Homo sapiens: one gene and its partners. The protein of the gene in region 2 interacts with the protein of the main gene of each other region in a pairwise test. Each region holds a gene or a part of one and is shown on either strand. Other genes may lie near its edges.

Region 1 (6,997 bases), on a different chromosome or scaffold from region 2:
AAGGGCTCCTGTGGGCCTTCTGACCTCCAGCTCAGGTCTTCCCCATCCTTTATCTGGAAGAATCCAGTGGCTGGAGCCTCGGGACCTTGCCTCTGAGCTGGCTTGGCTGTGGGGAGGGGTCTCTGGCCTCCCCTCCCTGCTCTGTGCTTGCAGCCTCACCTCCTGGTCCCAGGCTGGGTGAGGTGGAGTCTTGAGCCTGGTGAGGATGTGTGCATCCGCCTGGCCACACTTCAGCTCCCCTGATGAGAGTAAGAAGCCCCCCAGCCCATAATTTCCTGAAGTGATCCTAGCTCCTCTGGAGGAGTCTCCCATCTGTCTGCATCAAACCTGGAAAGTGGGGGATGGAGCATGAGGCGGGGGTCCATGCCCAAGGGTCTGGTGGGAGCTGGGCTGAGCTGGGAATCCCAGAAACATCCTTAGCAAGAAAGTGAGAGCAGAGTGCTGGAGGGACCCCGAGTGGGGAAGAGTTGGTTGTTAAGTCCGGCCACCCCAGCACTTTTGTTTTTGCTCCCTGGCCCTGTGGGCACTCACCCGGGGCAGGGACCAGAGAGCAGGCTGCAGCTCGGAGGGGCTGACTCCGCCAGCCTTCACGTTGGGCAGGCCCGGGGTGGCTCACTGTGGGAGCCCTTGTGAAATACCCTGGATGGGGTGGGGCAGGGGCTGCTTCCTGCAACCCAAAGCCACAGGATGGTTACTCCATCAGTGGAGGAGGCCGACTGGGAGGTCTAGAGGGGCCTCGGGCCAGGCTCCTCCCAGCTGATGGCCTGCCACCTGGAAGGTGGGGGAACTCCCTGGTCAGTCCTGCCAACAGACCAGAGCTAGATGGACGGCCCACCCCCAGCTTTTCAAAGTTAGGAGGCTGGGAGACTCGGGGTTCCCTGTAGCCTCCTCTCTGGCCAGGTCCCCCGTGGGGCCCCTGTGCACCCAGGGAGCAGGGGGCTTTGTCCGAGGCCGGCTCAGGGGAGGTGGCTGTAGAAGGTAGGACCCTGGAAGATGCACACACAGGGTCACTGGCTGGCCCTCACCTGCTATTGGCCAGGCTGGGGGCTGCGGCTCTCGTGGGGCGCTGTTGGCTGGCGGGCCAGGGAGTGCGGGCGCGGCGGGGAGGCAGAGGCAATGTGCTGAGTCAGCGTGACTCGCCAGGAACAGCCGCGCTCTGGGCAGTGCCGGGGTTATTTTTAAAGCTCCCGGCTTCCTTCTAGGCCTGCCTCTCCCGCGTCTTATTCCTTCTAATCTCTCCCCTGCCCCTTGTCTTGCGCCTGCCTTCCTAACAGCCTTCAGTTCCCCTTCTCCCGTCAGACCTTCCTGACCTCCCACCTGGTTCTCTAGGGGCAGGGTGGACAGGAAGCAGCTCAGCCCAGCCTGGGAGAGGCCAAGGGCTGCCTCCTATCAGGTATTGGGGGCTGGGCACCTGGACAGCAGGCTGGGGCGGGCTGTGCGGCAAGGGCTCTTGTGAACTGGGCCGGGGGCGGGGGGGGGGGGGTGCGGCGAGGGTGGTCTCCAGGGTACTGACCTGCTCCGTGTCTTGCAGAGAGCGCCTGCTCGCTGTGCCCCCGGGTTATGACGACCCCCAATAAAGGAAACAAGGCCTTGAAGGTGAGTGGGCAGGGACAGGAGCCTGTGGGCTGGGGTCGGGGGGCACAGTGGGCGTGCCCGCTTGGCCTGTGACCACCTGCACTGTGCCCCAGGTGAAGCGGGAGCCGGGTGAGAATGGCACCAGCCTGACGGATGAGGAGCTGGTGACCATGTCGGTGCGGGAGCTGAACCAGCACCTGCGGGGCCTGTCCAAGGAGGAGATCGTCCAGCTGAAGCAGCGCCGGCGCACGCTCAAGAACCGCGGCTACGCTGCCAGCTGCCGCGTGAAGCGGGTGACGCAGAAGGAGGAGCTGGAGAAGCAGAAGGCGGAGCTGCAGCAGGAGGTGGAGAAGCTGGCCTCAGAGAACGCCAGCATGAAGCTGGAGCTCGACGCGCTGCGCTCCAAGTACGAGGCGCTGCAGACCTTCGCCCGGACGGTGGCCCGCAGCCCCGTGGCGCCAGCCCGGGGCCCCCTTGCCGCCGGCCTGGGGCCCCTCGTCCCAGGCAAGGTGGCCGCCACCAGCGTCATCACAATAGTAAAGTCCAAGACGGATGCCCGATCGTAGGGACGCGCGTCTGCCCAGGCGGGTCTTTGCGGGGCCACTAGGCACATGGCGAATTTGGCTGCCCTGTCCCTCTGTTTCCTTCTCTTCTCTTTCCTCCCTCTCTTCCCCACCCTTCTCTCTTCCCTGCAAAGCACAACCTGTACCCCAGGGGCGCCGGGCTGAGCCCCTTTGATCTCGTCATTGTCGTCGTGTGTTTTGTATGTTGGGATTGGTCAGTTCGGCGGTGACGTGGGGTCGCCCCAACCCCTTTTGTACCAGGGCCATGCAGGCTTGGAGTCCAGAGTTGGTGCTGTGGGAACGGACTAGAGAGAGTTGCGGGAGAGAGAAGGAGCAGGCACGCTGGGCCTCGCGTGTCCCCGAGCAGTGAGGGTCCCAGTGTTCCCTCCACTCCCGAGTGGCCACAGGCTCGCGGGCTGGGAAGGATTCACTCTCTTTAGCCCCAGGGGAGCAGCTCAGCTTAGCCCAGCATGAAGAGATGGGCTCTGCTCTGAGAGTAGGGCGGGCTTGAAGGCCCTGATGGGTGGACCACCAGCCTGGGCGCAGTGGTGCTGGGGGCGTGCAGCTGGGCCCAGGGGCTGTGCACTCAGGCCTGACCCGTTGCACTGAACAAGACCAAATCTCTGGTTGTGCGCTTAACGTGAGGGTGGGTCCAGTGTGCCCTGCGATGGGTCCCGTGTCACTGTTTACATGACCTATTTGTGTGGTTATATAGCCCTTTATTTAAAAGAGAGAAGTTCCTTTTACAAAGTTATTAAATTAATTATATGTTTAAAAGTTAAAGAAAAAAGAGCTGCAGAGTATTTATAAAACTGTCTTTTAGAAAAAAAACAAGCAAGAAGACCATTTGACCATATGAATGGAAAAGGGAAGAAAGTATAATAGAAACTTTGCTAGTTAAAAAAAAAAGAAAAAAAAAGAAAAAAAATCCCTTTCTTGTAAACTTACGGACACCTCTTTGTGGCTGTTGGAGTTTAGTTTTTATATACACAGAGTTATCAGACATTATTTATAAAACTTAGTTTAAAAAAAAGACAAAAAAAAAAAAGCCAAGCCGTGAGCCGACCAGAAGGCCGTCCTCTTTGATATCTTTTGCAATTGTACCGAAAGTGACTTACTCCTCTGCCCTTCCTGCTTCCGTCTCTTGCCGGTGCCGTGGTGTCGTCCGTGCCTGGTGAGGTTTTGTGCAGCGGTAAAGTGCTGGTGCTTCTGGTGACCTTTGACCTGTGGGTGTCACTTCTTGTGTCTGTTTTCCCGTGTTCGTTTTTTGGGTTTAGTTGTGCTTTTGCTTCTGCTGGCTTGCTGGACCTGGGCTGGGGTGCCAAGTGGCGCCTGCTGCGTCAGAGCTCAAGGAATCTGTGCCCACCACCAGCTCCTGGTCCGTAGGAGGTGAGACATGGGGTTCTGTCATGCCCCCCTCCACTGAGCCTTGGCTACATCTGTGTCTAGGGCTTGGGCTGATCTAGTGGCGGGGTAGGTGAAACTGGGGTCCCTTGGGGCGCCCCACGCTGCTTCCACACCCACCACCTCTGGCCTTGGGTGGTGGCATTACAGGGATGAGGGAGTCACTGTGGGTGGCCACAGGGCTATGGCCAAGCGTTCCCTGGCCGTCTTCCTCTGGCCTCAGCTTTGTTCCTATAGGCTGCCCGCGCCGTGGGCTGCAGGTCTCGCCGCCCGCTTGATCCCTGAGGTGTTTCCATGCTGCGGGTGGTGCTTCCAGGCAGAGTGGGTGGGGGCCCACCGGGCACCGCCCTTTCTTCCTTGTCCCTGCCTCACTCTGAGAGCCTTGGGGGTCTCCACCAGTGCAGACAAGGGCTACAGTCTCCAGGGCCGGGTCTTGTCCCTCTTCTCCGCTGGTCCACGCTGGCAGCTCTTGGCTTCGGGCCTGCCTTCTGCCTCCCTTTGGGATCTGTGTCTTCCAGGGATCAGCTGCTTGGCTTCTGCTGGAGGTGCCTCCCTGTGGGGGCGCAGCCTGCCTCCTGCTCTCAGTTCCTCGCCAGAGGCTGCTGCCCTTCCTGGCTGGGCTCAGGAGGCTCCTTGTAGGCATATGATGGGGAGGGGGTGCCCCTACCCACCTCCAAGAGGCTACAGCCCTGTGTCTGGCCATGTGAGCCCTGGCCTTTCACCGGGTTGCTGGTTTCTTTTCTGTGGGGCCCAGACTTCTGTAAAGCACACAGATGTGGGTAAGATGAAAAACTGTGGCCCAACAGGGCTTAACCCTATGGATGGTGGGATTTTTATCCAATAGTTTGGCCTGGTGTGCCCACAGGATGGGAACAGGGAGGCACCATCAACACTTGTCATGTTAATGAGCTTTTCTTTGCTCGAGGTGTTCAGAGACAAGTCCTGTGTCTACCTGCGTCAGCCTGAAAATGGAAATATTGGCTGTTGACTCTTGTCATTTAGTGACTTCATCCCCCTCCCCTCAGTCTGATCTTGTCTAAGTAGAATCCAGGCGTTAGTTGGAATCATATCATAAGTATCCATGAAGAAAACGTCATGATCTGCCTCGGAGTGGGGAGAAACAGGCCCTCCTTGTCCTTGTGCAGCCCCCACTTTTGTCCTGGCTGTGGGTGGCCATCCATTTTGAGCACCTCTGCCAGGCTGCAGACCTGGAGGCGAAGGGAGTGTGGAAGAGGAGGGTGTAAGGGTCGACGCGTGCTGAATGGGAGGTGCAGGTCCTCGGTGCGTTGGCAGAAGAGGCTTCTGGAGTTTCGAGGCCATACCTCCTTTCAAGAGCTTTGGATTTGGGGCGACTTCCCTGGGTCTAGGGGAGTGTTCCTGTCCCCTGTCAGGTCAGCCCTGCGGAGCCACTCCACCCCTCTTCCCCTTCCCCTGGATTTCCTGACATAGATGGTGTGTTCATGTGCAGGTGTGAGTGTGCTGTCCTTCTGATCTCTGTTGATCCCGCTTTCCTACTGAGAGGGTGGTGGAGAGGGTGGTGGTCTCTTCTCACCTCAGTTTTTCTGACACAGCGAATCGAGGGCTTTGGCCAAGGCCAGGTCTCTCAAACTTGTCCGCCAAGTAAACCATGATATATGTCTTCCCTTCCACCTTAACTTTGCCCCAACTCCTCTTTTATCCTAACATGGACGCTCAGATTTCAGAGGAATACCCAGCAGGGACAGGTCAGCTCTCACCAGGAGAGTGAGGCCCCTGGCTGCTGCTCGGGGTGGCACTGGTGTTGCTGGCTCAGCTCTTGGTGCATGTTTCAGATATGTGTGTACACTTCTGACTGGTGATCAGGGCCCGGCCCACGGCCCTGAGCGGCTGCAGCCTGCTTTGGGACGATGGTCAGGTCCCATGTTGTCCCTGCTGCCTCCCTCTGGAGTGGCCACTTGGCCAAAGCGCCCATCCACATCTGGAAAGTCGGAGCCGCAGCCTGCTGCACCGTTTCCGCTCTGGGATCTTGTGAGTTACTTTTTTAGGCTGTGGTTTGGTGAAAGGAACCAACACATTAACGATTTTTCCCCCAGAAGCCACTGAATAATTCTTTTTGGTGTATTTTTGCCTTCCTGTTGGCTGTCTGGCCTTGGAGCAGGTCGGGAGAGTAGAGTACATAATCAGTGCCACACAGAGGCAGGGCGTGTCTGAGAGACTAATGCCTGTCCTGCCTCTGGCCTGTGTCCTGGGTGTGTACCATACCTGCTGGGCCAGTCCCACACATTTCCACCCTGCCCCTGGAGCAGCAGCTTTGATACCATGGGTGTCCCTTGAGTCTGAGCTAGAGTGTGTCCCCGATAAACTGTGAGACCTCCCTGTTCTTGGTGACCCCAGTTGGGCTTTGGCCCCTCCAGCAACCTTGTGTCCCAGCCCTGCCCTTCTTCCCACCCCCTCAATCTGCTAGTCCCTGAAGCCTTTAACCAAACGGGAGTGGGCACAGAAAGCCTTCTCCTGGCAACAGGACAAGGGCTGCCCGCGTGTCCAGCCCTGTTGCTCTCCTGGCGCTGAGAGGTGGGTCCAAGCAGAGTTGATCAGTCCCTGCCTGCCCTGCCTAGGTCTAGCCAGGGGAGGTTGTGTGTGTGGGAGAAGACCCCGGGATCTGCTGGGGTGGGATGGAGGTTATTAAAGATCTAAGTGAGGAGGGGCTGGGGTTTGGATGCGGGGTGAGGCCCGAGCGCTCACACTTCGTGTAGGGCGGGCAGGGGCCTGACCTCTTGCAGGGCAGTGGCCTTGGTGCCCTACCCCTGCCCTGCGCAGTATTTATTGCTAAATTATTGTCCAGGAGGGGCAGCACTGGGCCTGGCCCCCCGGGTATTTATTGCTGTACATAGTGTATGTTTGTGATATATAAGGTTTTCTTTATTTTGTATATGATCAATAAACCTTTTAAAGAGACTGGCAGGTGCTTCTTTGGGGCGACGCGGCGGGCGGAGCCGGAAGGGGTGGGTGGGGGCGGGGCCCATCTTGCGCATGCGCCCTGAGCGCGGCCTGCCGTGTGAGGCGGAAGCGGAAGAGCAGGTCTCCAGGGGAGCGATGGCAGCCGGGGGTCTGAGCCGCTCCGAGCGCAAAGCGGCGGAGCGGGTCCGGAGGTTGCGGGAGGAGCAGCAGAGGGAGCGCCTCCGCCAGGTACGCCGCCGCCGCTCCCCGGCCCGGCCATGCCCGGCCCGCGCCGCCGCTCACCGTCCGCCTGCCCGCAGGTGTCGCGCATCCTGAGGAAGGCGGCGGCGGAGCGCAGCGCCGAGGAGGGCCGGCTGCTGGCCGAGAGCGCGGACCTGGTAACGGAGCTGCAGGGCCGGAGCCGGCGGCGCGAGGGCCTGAAGCGGCGGCAGGAGGAGGCGAGTTCCGCGTGCGGCGCGCGGGCGCCCCCGGTTTCGGGAGCAGCTGGGGCGACGGGCGGTCCCGGGTGGGGCGGCCCG
Region 2 (7,977 bases):
TCATAATTTGTTTTTCCTCTTAACATCTACAATACTTAAGTTCTTGTTAGAATTTAATTATGCATATTTTGAATTTTACAACATTTATTGGCTACCTTTATTACAGAAGTAATATATTTATATTACAGAAAATTTTTTTAAAAAGCAAAAGTAAAACCACTTATAGGCTCTTTATTTCAAGAGAACCACTTGAACACTGTGCATATAGCCTTCCAGATTTTTCCTATGCATGCACTGGCAATTTTTTTTCACAAATAGGATCCTATTGTAAATAGTTATACAAATTATTGTTAAACTATACTAACAAAATATTAATATATCAATATACATAAATTTTCATCACTAATTTTTTTCATTATTATTATTATTTTTGGTAGAGATGGGGTTTCACTATGTTGTCCAGGCTGGTCTCAAACTCCTGAGCTCAAGAAATTTGCCTGCTTCAGCCTCTCAAAGTGCTGGGATTATAGGCATGAGCCACCGTGCCCAGCCACCAATATTATTTTTGATGGATCCATGATATTCATATTTTATATATGAACCACCATTTATTTAGCCAATCATTTCCTGTAAGGCATTTGGATTTTTCCATTTTCTTTTTGCTATCATACAAAAAAGATCTGTACATTCTTAATTTTTTCATTAGTATAAATTATAACACATACAATTTCTATATAATTTTAAATATTAATATATAAAAGTAATAAAATCAAATACAAAATTACATTTTTCAATTGTTTCATGTATATTAGTTTTGACTCCTTATGTAGATTTAAGTTCCTTAAGGATACAGTCCAATGTTTCTTAATTTTTCACCTCAACATGTAACAGATGCTCAGTAGTGTATGTTGAAAAATTAGTTTATTTCATATACCATATTTTACTAGTTTATTTCATATAAGCTTTTAGATAATAGTGGCATCAATTCTTTACTATAGAAGAAGATCACTATAGATAGTAATATAAGAACATCACTTTCTTTTAGGGACTATTTCCAAAGTCCTTCTTAGGAACTGAGGCAATCTTTGAGGAGATGAAGATGGGACAGATAAGAGATATACAGTTTGAAGGAAAAAGGCTGCCAGCCAAATTTAACAATAGCTAGAAGCAAAATTTTTGCTTTTCTGGTTTGGATTGCCCTGATCATTTTTCAAAACTTGTGTGAGATTTTGTACAATGAGAAATCTCTTCTTGGCAGTGGTGTGTCCAGAAAGCCCCCAGGAGTGGGCCCCCAAGGTCCTCTGTGCCGTCCAGCAATTCTGCCACATCCCTGGCACTGGTTCACATCTTTTCTCTATCCCCTAAATCTATCCTTCCCTCCTCCACTATCAGTGAACGGTCTATCTTCTTACTCCACTAAGAAAACAGAATTCCTCAGACAACGGCTTCCCATACTTCCTACCATGATATTCCAGCCTCCCTGCACTTCCCCACCTGTGCTGCCCTTCCTTCTGTTGGTTGGGATGAACTGGCCCCTTTCTCTCTCAAGGAAGCTTCTCAGCTTCCTTGTGGGGATCTTTTTTTCTTCATCTTGCTGACCTCTAAATGTCGGAGTGCCCCAGGTCTTAAACCTTAGACTTCTTCTCTTTGCTCCTCTTCTCCACCCATGTTTCCAGTTGCTGTGTTGATGACACACAGATTTCTATCTCTAGTCTGGACTTCTCCCCTAAATTCTAGATTCCCATGTCTGATTACCTGCTCACCTTTTCCACTTAGATGTCTGATAGACATCTGAAATGTACTATATCCAAAACCAAATGTTTCAGCATTTCCCCCATACCTGCTCCGCCTGGATAAATGAACTCTCCATTAATAAGCTGTTCAGTCCAAAATTCAGAATTTCCTTTGACTCTTCTCTCATATCCTACAATGGAATCATCAACAAATCTTGTCCGGTTTATGCTGAAAATATATCTGGATTCCATTTATGGCTGTCATTCTAGCATTCTATTAATAGTTTAAATCACCATCACCTCTCTAATGACTTATCTCAATAGCCTCCTACTTGGTCTCTCTGCTTCCATTCCTGTACTTCCCGTGACCCAGCAGAGTGATCCTTTAGGAGTTGAGGCCAGGACATGTTCCTTGTCTGCAGAAACCCCTACAGCATCCCACTCCATTCACTTTTGTCAGATTTCATTGGATGTTAAATTTGCCCTGCCATGCCTTATTCAAGGTACCACATTTGAAATTCTGTCTACTGTTCTGCCTAAGAAAAAATACAATATTTTCTCAACATCATCAAATCCTGTACAGGGTGCTGGAGAGCAAGAAAATCAAAGGCTCAAGAACTGCCCATGTCTTTAGTCCGTCTTCCTTTCCTCATCTGTTTCCTGTATATTTTAATTTTTCCTGTTTTATTTTCTACAATCAAGAAGATTTCTATTATAGAAATAAAGTTTATTTGTTTCAATGCCATGATACAGATTTATTGTCCCTGGAAATATCATGCTTAGAAATGAATCACAGACAAAGCCCATGCTCTGGATCAACACACATGTGTAATTATGTAGGAAAAAAATGTATATCAGGAAAGGTTGAATGCTCCAGGCATGAGAAATAAATTGACCTCCACTCAACTTACTGCCATGATTATACAGAGGGAAGGACCTGGATCTGTTTCACATCATAAACGCCTAAATTGCCAGAGCAGCACAAGCCCAGGAGTGGCCATGCAAACTCATGATGGAGGTGCTAAGGCTGTCCACAGCCCAACCTCTGCAGCAGTACTGTTAAATGAGTGTCTAGTACTTGACTTACCATTTTAATTTCACATAATTCTGAATGTATTTTTCGGCTTGAATTCAAATAACCCACTTCTAACTACCGAAAATAAAGTAGAAAAATGAACTCACTACCAGACTTCAAAGCTTATCCAAAGCAAAGATTTCGTCTTACAGCCAGAGGTGCATGATTGCAGAGCTGGATGTAACCTGAGAGGCTAACTACTCCTAATTCAGCCTCCTTGAATGACTGGATGATGCAACCTATCACAGGTGTTTTAGGTTTTTTCATCTCTATTTAATGTCCCACCTCATGCTTGAAAATCTCAAAGTGAAAAAGCTCCAGTCTGAGTCTTTGGGCAAGCAGACTAACTGAAATGACCTGTTAGCCTTTGTTGTATCCATCTGACAAGATCAGCTTGTAGAATCCAGAATGGAGGTGGGAGATCAGCTGGCAGCCTCATTTCCCTCCTCAACCACCCCTACGCTGATGTGCCCAACTCCACTCACAGCTGGGCAGCCACCGCTTGCTTGAAAATAAATGAATCTACACCACTCTCATACGGATGCTCTCAAGCATCCCTTGTTGTGAGAAAAACATTTATTGCTGCTACTAAAATGCGTAAAGTTATCTCACAAACACATACTTACAAGAATGAGGAATGAGAAACAGAACCATCCATAAAACTATAAGAAACGGCCTGGCCAGGGCAGACCAGGAATTAGTACTCTGTCCTTGCCAGGGGTCAGGCAGGGACCTCAGAAGCAGGGTGTTTTGTCCTAGGGGGCACCAGACCAGAGGTCAGGAGACTGAGGGCTACTCCTAGCTCTAGGACTTTTCCTTATCTGAAGGCCGGGTCGGTTAGCAGAGAAAATCTCACAGTCCCGTGCCAGACCTCCACGCAGGGACTCTGCAGTGCTGTTAGAAAAATTAGCTCAGCACCTTCAGCTTGCTTTCAGCCATCACTTAGCTTTCCACACAGACATTCCAAATGGGGCCTTTCAAAACTCTGCCCTCAAATGAAGGTAGTTCAGAGCAACACTTTAGATGATATCACAAGACTCCCAGGACGCTTCACTGCTTCCTCAGCATACGCCAGTGCCCGTTTTACAGGGGGGATTTATGATCCTTCTCTCAGTAGAGCGAGCCAAACTTTTATAATATTCATTAAAAATCAGCACCACGTGTAATAATATGGAATACTGCCTGTACACAAGAGGGCCAAGTTATAGGTGTTTAGGGAAACGTGGCAGAATTTTCTGGCCTTGGCAAGAGGTAAAGTTGCAGGCACCAGCACAACACTAACACAACCTTATTTTATTGCAAATGTACATTCAGCCTAAATCCTAATTACCTTCTGTAAAATCCTAACCACCACCAAGCTTTCTTCTGACAGGGCACTCACACGACGGCCTTTAAGGGCAGCAACAACATCCTAAGAGCCGCAGAAAGGAAAGGCAGGGGAGAGTGGCTGGAAGGCAGTAGGAGCTGGGGCTGAAGCCCGGGAGGTTGGCTTTTAATGTCCTCCTGAAATTGACCACTCTCTTTCCAAAAACACTGGCTTGGGGGCTTAAAGGTTCGCTCAGTAGGGCAGGCGGAGGGCCTCCTGAAAAGGATTGAGAAGTCAACATTCAAAAGGCTGCTTTTACTCGCCCGGTCCCCACCCAAAAGGGAGTCCGGTCAGCTTTGTGGGGGCCAGTGGAGCATCTTTTCTTGCCCTTCCGGGAAAACGCTAGCTAACCCTGGGATCCCCGGTCCCGACGTCTGCTCTCCTTCCCCAGGTGCAGCACCTAGGGCTCTGGCCCCCTCCCCACGTGCCACACCAGCCCTCACCACTACTCTCACCCTGCTATGCCCCCAACCCTCGTCTTTCGTGGCCGGGAAGGCCAGGCCGAGCGGGGCGGTCAGCCGGGCCGGGAGGAGGGGGCTCTCCGGGCCGCGCGGCCGCACAAAGCGGGGAGATCTGCTGCTGCGGCGGCATGAGGCGCGCCCCCTCCCGCGAGCCAGCGGAGCGCGCGCGCCCGCCCCCGTCCCCCGCCCCCCGCCCCAGCCCCCGGAGCGCCATTCGCGGAGCGGCTTACGCTAGTCGCCGGGCGTACCGCGCCCCAGCGGCCGGGGAGGTGCGCTGCCCGGCTCCCGTAAAGTTATTGTGAATGGGGAGCGGGTGACGTCAGCGCCGAATGTCAACAATGTAGCGATTGAGAGTGTGGGCGTTCCGGGGAGAGCGCAAGCCGCGCGGCGCGGAGCAAACAGCGCCGAGCCGCCGCCGCCTCAGCAGCAGCAGCAGCAGCAGCAGCGGCAGCAGCGGCCGTGCACGCCCGGGCTGCGGTCGCACAGCGCTAACGTGAGCGGCCGCCGCCCTCGCCACCCCGCCTGCCCACTCCCGCCGCCGCCCCGCTCTCGCTTTCCCCCCGGCCTCCCCTCGCCCCTTCCCCTCCCCCTTCCCGGCGCACTCGGGGGGCTGGGAACGAGCTGCCATGTGATGCGCGTCCCCTCCGCGAGCTTTCGGTGACCCACGAACTGCCCACCTCGCCGGCTGCCGGGAGGGGGCTGCGAGCCGGGAAGACGCGGGGAAGAGGAGGCGGAAAAGGACGCAAAGTTCTCCGGCGAGGTGAGTCCCGGGCCCCGGGCCCCGGGCCCCGCCGCTGGGCGGGGTGGCGGGGCAAGTTTGCGGGGGGAGCGGGCGCGCGGGGCGGGCGGGGAGGCGTGGGGAAACGGCGCGGGAAGGGAGCCCCGGCCGCCGGGCGCGCAGCCGCCCTCCCCGCGCCCTGCCCGCTTTTATGGCATTTTCTAGGAACGGGAAGGGGGTGGGAGCCGAGCCGGCGGCCGCGCCGCGCCGAATGTGTGCTCTCCCTCCCGGCTGTTTACGGCGGCCGAGGCGCATTGTATTTTGCTGGCGTCGAAGGGTGTTTTGGAACAGCAGAGGGAGGAGGAGCAGAGAGTAATAAGTCAGGCATGGGGAGGGCGGGCTGCAGGAGGCGCGCGTCCGCGCGAGCCGCAGCAGCTGTCAGACCCGCGGCCCTGCCCCCGGCCCGGCGAGGCCCGGGTGTCCCGGCCCCCAGCCTGCGATCCCAGCTCCAGGCCGGGCGGCCTCCTCCTTAACCCTCGGCGTGCGCATCCCGGGCTGCTCCGCGAGGACCTTGGCCGCGGCGCCTTTGCGCTCAGCTGTCAGCCGCCGCCGGGTGGCCCGGACCACCGCGACCGGCGGGGAATCAAAGCCCAAGTTTAGGGTCGCAGGAAGAGGCGAGCTGGGGGCCTCGCGGCGCAGACCTGGATCGAATCTCTCCTAGCGAAAGATCGGGTTGTCGGAAAGCGTCCCGCGTAGCTAAGACCTAAGGGCGCCAGGCTTCTGAGAGGGAAACCTTGCACCTCCTCTCCCACAGATCCTCCATGAAGTCAAGGTGCAACACACACACACACACACACACACACACACCCTACACTCCAGTCTCCAAGCCCCAGAAGCTTCACCCAGGAGACTGGTTTATGAAGGGGACACTGCCCTCCCCGTCCCCGCGTCGAGGCGCTCCGTGGCCCCGCTGTGCTTCGCTCACCCGGCGGGTGTTCGGGAGCCCGGCGCCGCTGGAGACGGCGGCGGGCGGCGCTCACGGGCTACCCTAGGTGCCCACGAGGGGAGAGACTGGAGCGAGCATCTCGGCGACCTCGGTCTGGCCAAGCATTTGCAGGAACTCGGACCGTGAGGGGAAGCGTGCAGGGCCGGGAGTGAGTGTGTGAAGGGGTGGCACACTCCTGGCTTCTGGGGTCGCGGGCGCATGGGGCATCCCCAGCACTCTCCCGCGCGTAGGCGAGTTTGGTAACTTGAGGGAAGTTCCGGCGCGGCCGCTGCCGGGGTGGTTTGTCTGTGGCCCGATGAGGCGCGCCTCGCAGCCTGCTCTCCCGGTCACCGCCGTCGCCGTGACCTGTGGCCTCCAGGAAACGAGAGGGACCGGGGCGCCCCACCCGCGAGACGGACCCGCAGTCTCCCGGCGGGCCCGCGGGCGGCGAGACGCGGCGTTCCTGGTTTTCACCTTCGCTGTCTAGTGCTGCAGTCTCTCACTCTCTGTAAATTTCATCTGTTGAGTGTATTTAACTAAAAAGGGTAATTACTTTAGATAAAAATCCTTTCCTGCCTAGTGGGAACCTTGGCGGAGATGATGCCTAATGAGATATTTTGCTTTTGTCTGTTTAGAGTAAAATTAGAGATGTTAACGCTGATAACGGTTTTCTCAGATCATTAAAATGTAACATGTAGGAAAGGCACGTCTTGCTGCAAAGGCTCGGGCTGACATGAAAGAAGCTGAGCGTGAAAGGCTGCCCCTCCTTTGGCGGAGAGGGCTATTTTGGTAAGGCAGCGGGCGTCTTGCTTAAAATGTGAGATCGCCCCACCCTGGTTCTCGGGCACCTCCCGAGTAAACGGCGTTTTTCATTCTTGCAGGTAATAATAAACGTGAGTCAAAATGACATCTTGTTAGAATTAGTCTTTAGTCTGTAAGAGAGATTGCCAAATTACAGTGTTGCGTTCAAACTGCTCCACTGAAAGGTCTGTCAGCATTTCCATTATAAATTCAGTTTTTCTGGAGTTTATAATTTCACCACAAAACTTTGAGTGGCTGAAATGTTTTCCCTTCTAGTATTCTGGTTTTTGAAAGAAATTTATTGATTGCCCATTTCCAACGTTTTTTTTACTCTCGAAACCTGAATATCATTGAAATAGAGCGAAGTCCCAGAAATGGAACACACAACCATGGAATAAAGTATTTTTGTTAGAACATAACTTTATTGGTGCAGAGCCGTATTTTCGTTTTGCATTGCAGGAGGCTTCAGGTTTGCCATTTGGTAATCATGAATGTGTTGAGTAAATTCTTCTGCTGTCTGTCTATTCTGCAGGTGGACTGAAATGTCAGTTGGTAGTGTGTTTGCCAGGATTACATGGAGACACACACTTCTCAGTTAAGTGTGTGTCTGAACTCATAGCTAAATTGTGAACACTCCTGTTAGTTACTTTTTTGGTTCTTTGTATGTTGCATGTCAGGATCTGCTATGAAGAAGAAGGGGTGAGGTGAAAGAGAGGGAGGGGATCAGGATTCACTTTCTGTATTACCAGTGCCTGGGAGAAAGCCATTTATTATTTTCCTATTGAATTATGCCCTTTGACTTAGTATCTTCAGGCAATTCTTTTCCAGTAGCTCACCTCTGGCTGCTGTGTAAGGGGCTTAATTATTTGCAAACTGCCTTGAAATCCCTGGATGAAAG
Region 3 (3,527 bases), on a different chromosome or scaffold from region 2:
GCACCACCATGCTTGGCTAAATTTTTTTATTTTTGTATTTTTTTTATTTTTAGTAGAGACAGGGTTTTGCCATGTTGGCCAGGCTGGTCTTGAACCCTGACCTCAGGTGATCCACCCCCACTGGCCTCCCAAAGTGCTAGTGGCAGGTGTGAGCCACCACACACGGCCAGAATAGACTTTAAAGCAAGAAAGCAAAAGAAAAAATGTATTAGATCCCCGAGAAGTTTCCACACAACTCCAAGAATTATTATTAGAGTTCCCACTCTCTGAGGAATTTTCAAGAGAAATTAGTTAGAATTCAACAAGAAATAAATTACTTTAAAATATTTCCAAATATGAGAGGTTTTTTTTGTTTTTGTTTTTGTTTTTGTTTTTGTTTTTGTTTTGAGAAAGGGTCTCTGTTGCCCAGGCTGGAGTGCAGTCAGTGGCACGATGTCAGCTCACTGCAACCTTGGCCTCCTAGGCTGAAATAGTCCTCCCATCTCAGTCTCACAAGTAGCTGGGATTACAGGTGAGCACCACCAAGCTCAGCTATTTTTTTTTTTTTTTTGTATTTTTAGTAGAGATGGAGTTTTGCCATGTTGCCCAGGCTGGTCTTGCACTTGGGCTCAAGTGATCCACCTGCCTCAGCCTCCACAGTGCTGGAATTACAGGTGTGAGTCACCATGCCCAGCCAATATGAGAGATTTTAAAGCACATTTTTCAATCACCATGTGTCAAAGAAGAAAATATAATGGAAGTTAGAAAATATTAGAGAATGGCCAGGTGCAGTGGCTCATGTCTATAATCCCAGCACTTTAGGAGGCTGAAGCAGGTGAATCACTTGAGCTCAGGAGTTCGAGACCAGCCTGGCCAACATGGCGAAAATCCATCTCTACTAAAAATACAAAAATTAACCAGGTGTAGTGGCACACGCCTGTAAATCCCAGCTACTCAGGAGGCTGAGGCCCAAGAATGGCTTGAACCCTGGAGGCAGAGGTTGCAGTGAGCTGAGATTGTGCCACTGCACTCCAGCCTGGGCAACGAAACGAGAGTCTGTCTCCAAATAAATAATTAGAGAATATTTTTCAATCTGGATGCAGGTGACATGGGTGTGCTCTCGAGAATCCATCAAGCATTGATGATTTGCACACTCTTTTGTGTATATGTTACACTTCAGCAAAAACATTCACAAAGGGGAAAAAGGCAAAAGATACTTAAAGCAGCCAGAGGTAAAGACACATCACCTTCAGACATGACAACCAGACAGACAGACAGCTGGCTTTTCAAAGGAACCCAGAAAACAGTTGGGTGACATTTTCAACATGCTAAAAGAAAACCACTAACCCAAATCAGAGACCCAGCAAAAGTATTTCAAGAATGAGGTTACAGTAAAAACATTTTGCAGACAAATAACGAAAGAGTTTGCCAGCAGCAGGCTAACACTAAAGAAAATTGTAAACAGTGTACTCACATCAGGCACAAGGAAAGTGATCTCAGACGGAAGGGCATGATGCAAGAAGAAATAAAAGCAAAGAAGTAGAAAATACATGAGAAAATCTAGACAAAGATTGCATAAACAGTTTCTGGAGTTTTTTTAAGTGATAGAATTATACAACAGGAAAAAAAGTCTGCAGGGAGTAAACTGAGTTAAAATGTTCCAAGTTAATGACTGTCTGGGAGGAGAATAAATAACATGGATACACTTTGGGAGGCCGAGGCGGGCGGATCACGAGGTCAGGAGATCGAGACCATCCTGGCTAACACGGTGAAACCCCGTCTCTACTAAAAATACAAAAAATTAGCCGGGCGCGGTGGCGGGCGCCTGTAGTCCCAGCTACTCCGGAGGCTGAGGCAGGAGAATGGCGTGAACCCGGGAAGCGGAGCTTGCAGTGAGCCGAGATTGCGCCACTGCAGTCCGCAGTCCGGCCTGGGCGACAGAGCGAGACTCCGTCTCAAAATAAATAAATAAATAAATAAATAACATGGATAAAATTTGTTGTTTGTTGTTGTTGTTGTTGTTGTTGTTGTTGTTGAGACGGAGTTTCGCTCTTGTTGCCCAGGCTGGAGTGCAATGGCGCGGTCTTTGCTCACTGCAACCTCTGCATCCCGGGTTCAAGCTATTCTCCTGCCTCAGCCTCCTGAGTAGCTGGGATTACACGATGCGCCACCAGGCCTGCCTAACTTTGTATTTTTGGTAGAGGCGGGGTTTCTCCATGTTGGTCAGGCTGGTCTCAAACTCCCGACCTCAGGTGATCCGCCCGCCTCGGCCTCCCAAAGTGCTGGGATTACAGGCATGAGCCACTGCGCCCAGCCAAATCTGCATTTTGATAAGTATGCATTTTACTATCTAAGGGAGCTAAAACATTTTTATTATTTTAGCACTGTAACTTTGCTTTTCTTCTTTGTTTTGTTTTTTTGAGACAGAGTCTCACTCTGTCGCCCAGGCTGGAGTGCAGTGGCGTGATCTCAGCTCACTGCAACCTCCACCTCCTGGGTTCAAGCAATTCTCCTGCCTCAGCCTCCTGAGTAGCCAGGATTACAGGTGCACGCCACCACACCCAGCTAATTTATGTAATTTTATAGAGTTGTGGTTTCACCATATTGGCCAAGCTGGTCTAGAACTCCTGGCCTCAAGTGATCCACCTGCCTCGGCCTCCCAAAGTGCGGGGAGACCAGAATTCCACCCAGAATGACCTCTCTGTTCCTAGGAGTGTGACAGCATTTGGGGGGGAAAATAGCGTAGAGTTGGAATTTTTAAAATTCAGTTTGACAAAATGACTTTTAGCTGGAGCATTAAGTCCCTTTACATTTAATGTAATAACTGATATTACATTTAAGTATAAATTTAAATCTACCGTCTTACTTTGTTTTCTATTTTTGTCCTTTCTATGTTCTCTTTTATGTCCTCTCTGGATTTATTACAGATTGTTTGTGGCTTTTAAAAAAAGTCATTGCTTGAATGATGAGAGCTTATATTTAAAAAGGCAGGGGGCTAAAATAAATAAATAATTTAAAAAATAAAAATAAAGTCATTGTTTTCCTTTGAATGTTTGAGAGTTACAATTCTAGGCTGGGCGAGGTGGCTCAAGCCTGTAATCCCAGCGCTTTGGGAGGCCAGCCCAGGTGGATCACCTGAAGTCAGCATCGTGAAACCCCATCTCTACTAAAAATACAAAAATTAGCCGGGCACAGCGGCATGTGCCTGTAATCCCAGCTACTCGGGAGGCTGAGGCAGGAGAATCACTCGAACCTGGGAGGCGGAGGTTTCAGTGAACCAAGATCTCACCATTTCACTCTAGCCTGGGCAACAAGAGCAAAACTCCATCTCAAAAAGAAAGAAATATATATGAGTAGATATTAAATGTGTACACATATATACATATATAAAGGCTAAAATAATGATCTAAGCCTCCATCTCAAGAAGTTAGAAAAAGAACAACAAAATAAATGTAAGAGCACAGAAAGAAGGAAATAATAGGGAGTAGATACAAAGAAAATGGAAAAGAAACACTCAATAAAGAAAATCAACAAAGTGAGTTTATTTA

What was found. Proteins that work in one complex are often made in the same cells at the same time.
Region 1: the proteins of BACH2 (region 2) and MAFG interact in binary tests that used the Homo sapiens proteins (3 or more experiments, as listed by UniProt).
Region 3: the proteins of BACH2 (region 2) and AP1M1 interact in binary tests that used the Homo sapiens proteins (3 or more experiments, as listed by UniProt).

The regions. Positions count from the first base shown.
Region 1 is NC_000017.11:81,917,749-81,924,745, reverse strand, and holds the end of MAFG (transcription factor MafG), read left to right. Parts: exon of another isoform or gene 1-978; intron 979-1,279; exon of another isoform or gene 1,280-1,393; intron 1,394-1,513; exon of another isoform or gene 1,514-1,531; 5' UTR 1,532-1,560; coding exon 1,561-1,596; exon of another isoform or gene 1,597-1,688; coding exon 1,689-2,141; 3' UTR 2,142-6,476; downstream 6,477-6,997. Other genes in the region: SIRT7 (NAD-dependent protein deacetylase sirtuin-7), read left to right, coding at 6,615-6,707, 6,779-6,916. UniProt on the Homo sapiens protein: Since they lack a putative transactivation domain, the small Mafs behave as transcriptional repressors when they dimerize among themselves.
Region 2 is NC_000006.12:90,293,838-90,301,814, reverse strand, and holds the start of BACH2 (transcription regulator protein BACH2), read left to right. Parts: upstream 1-4,971; 5' UTR 4,972-5,335; intron 5,336-6,608; exon of another isoform or gene 6,609-7,977. UniProt on the Homo sapiens protein: Transcriptional regulator that acts as a repressor or activator. Binds to Maf recognition elements (MARE). Plays an important role in coordinating transcription activation and repression by MAFK.
Region 3 is NC_000019.10:16,242,901-16,246,427, forward strand, and holds the end of AP1M1 (AP-1 complex subunit mu-1), read left to right. Parts: 3' UTR 1-3,006; downstream 3,007-3,527. UniProt on the Homo sapiens protein: Subunit of clathrin-associated adaptor protein complex 1 that plays a role in protein sorting in the trans-Golgi network (TGN) and endosomes.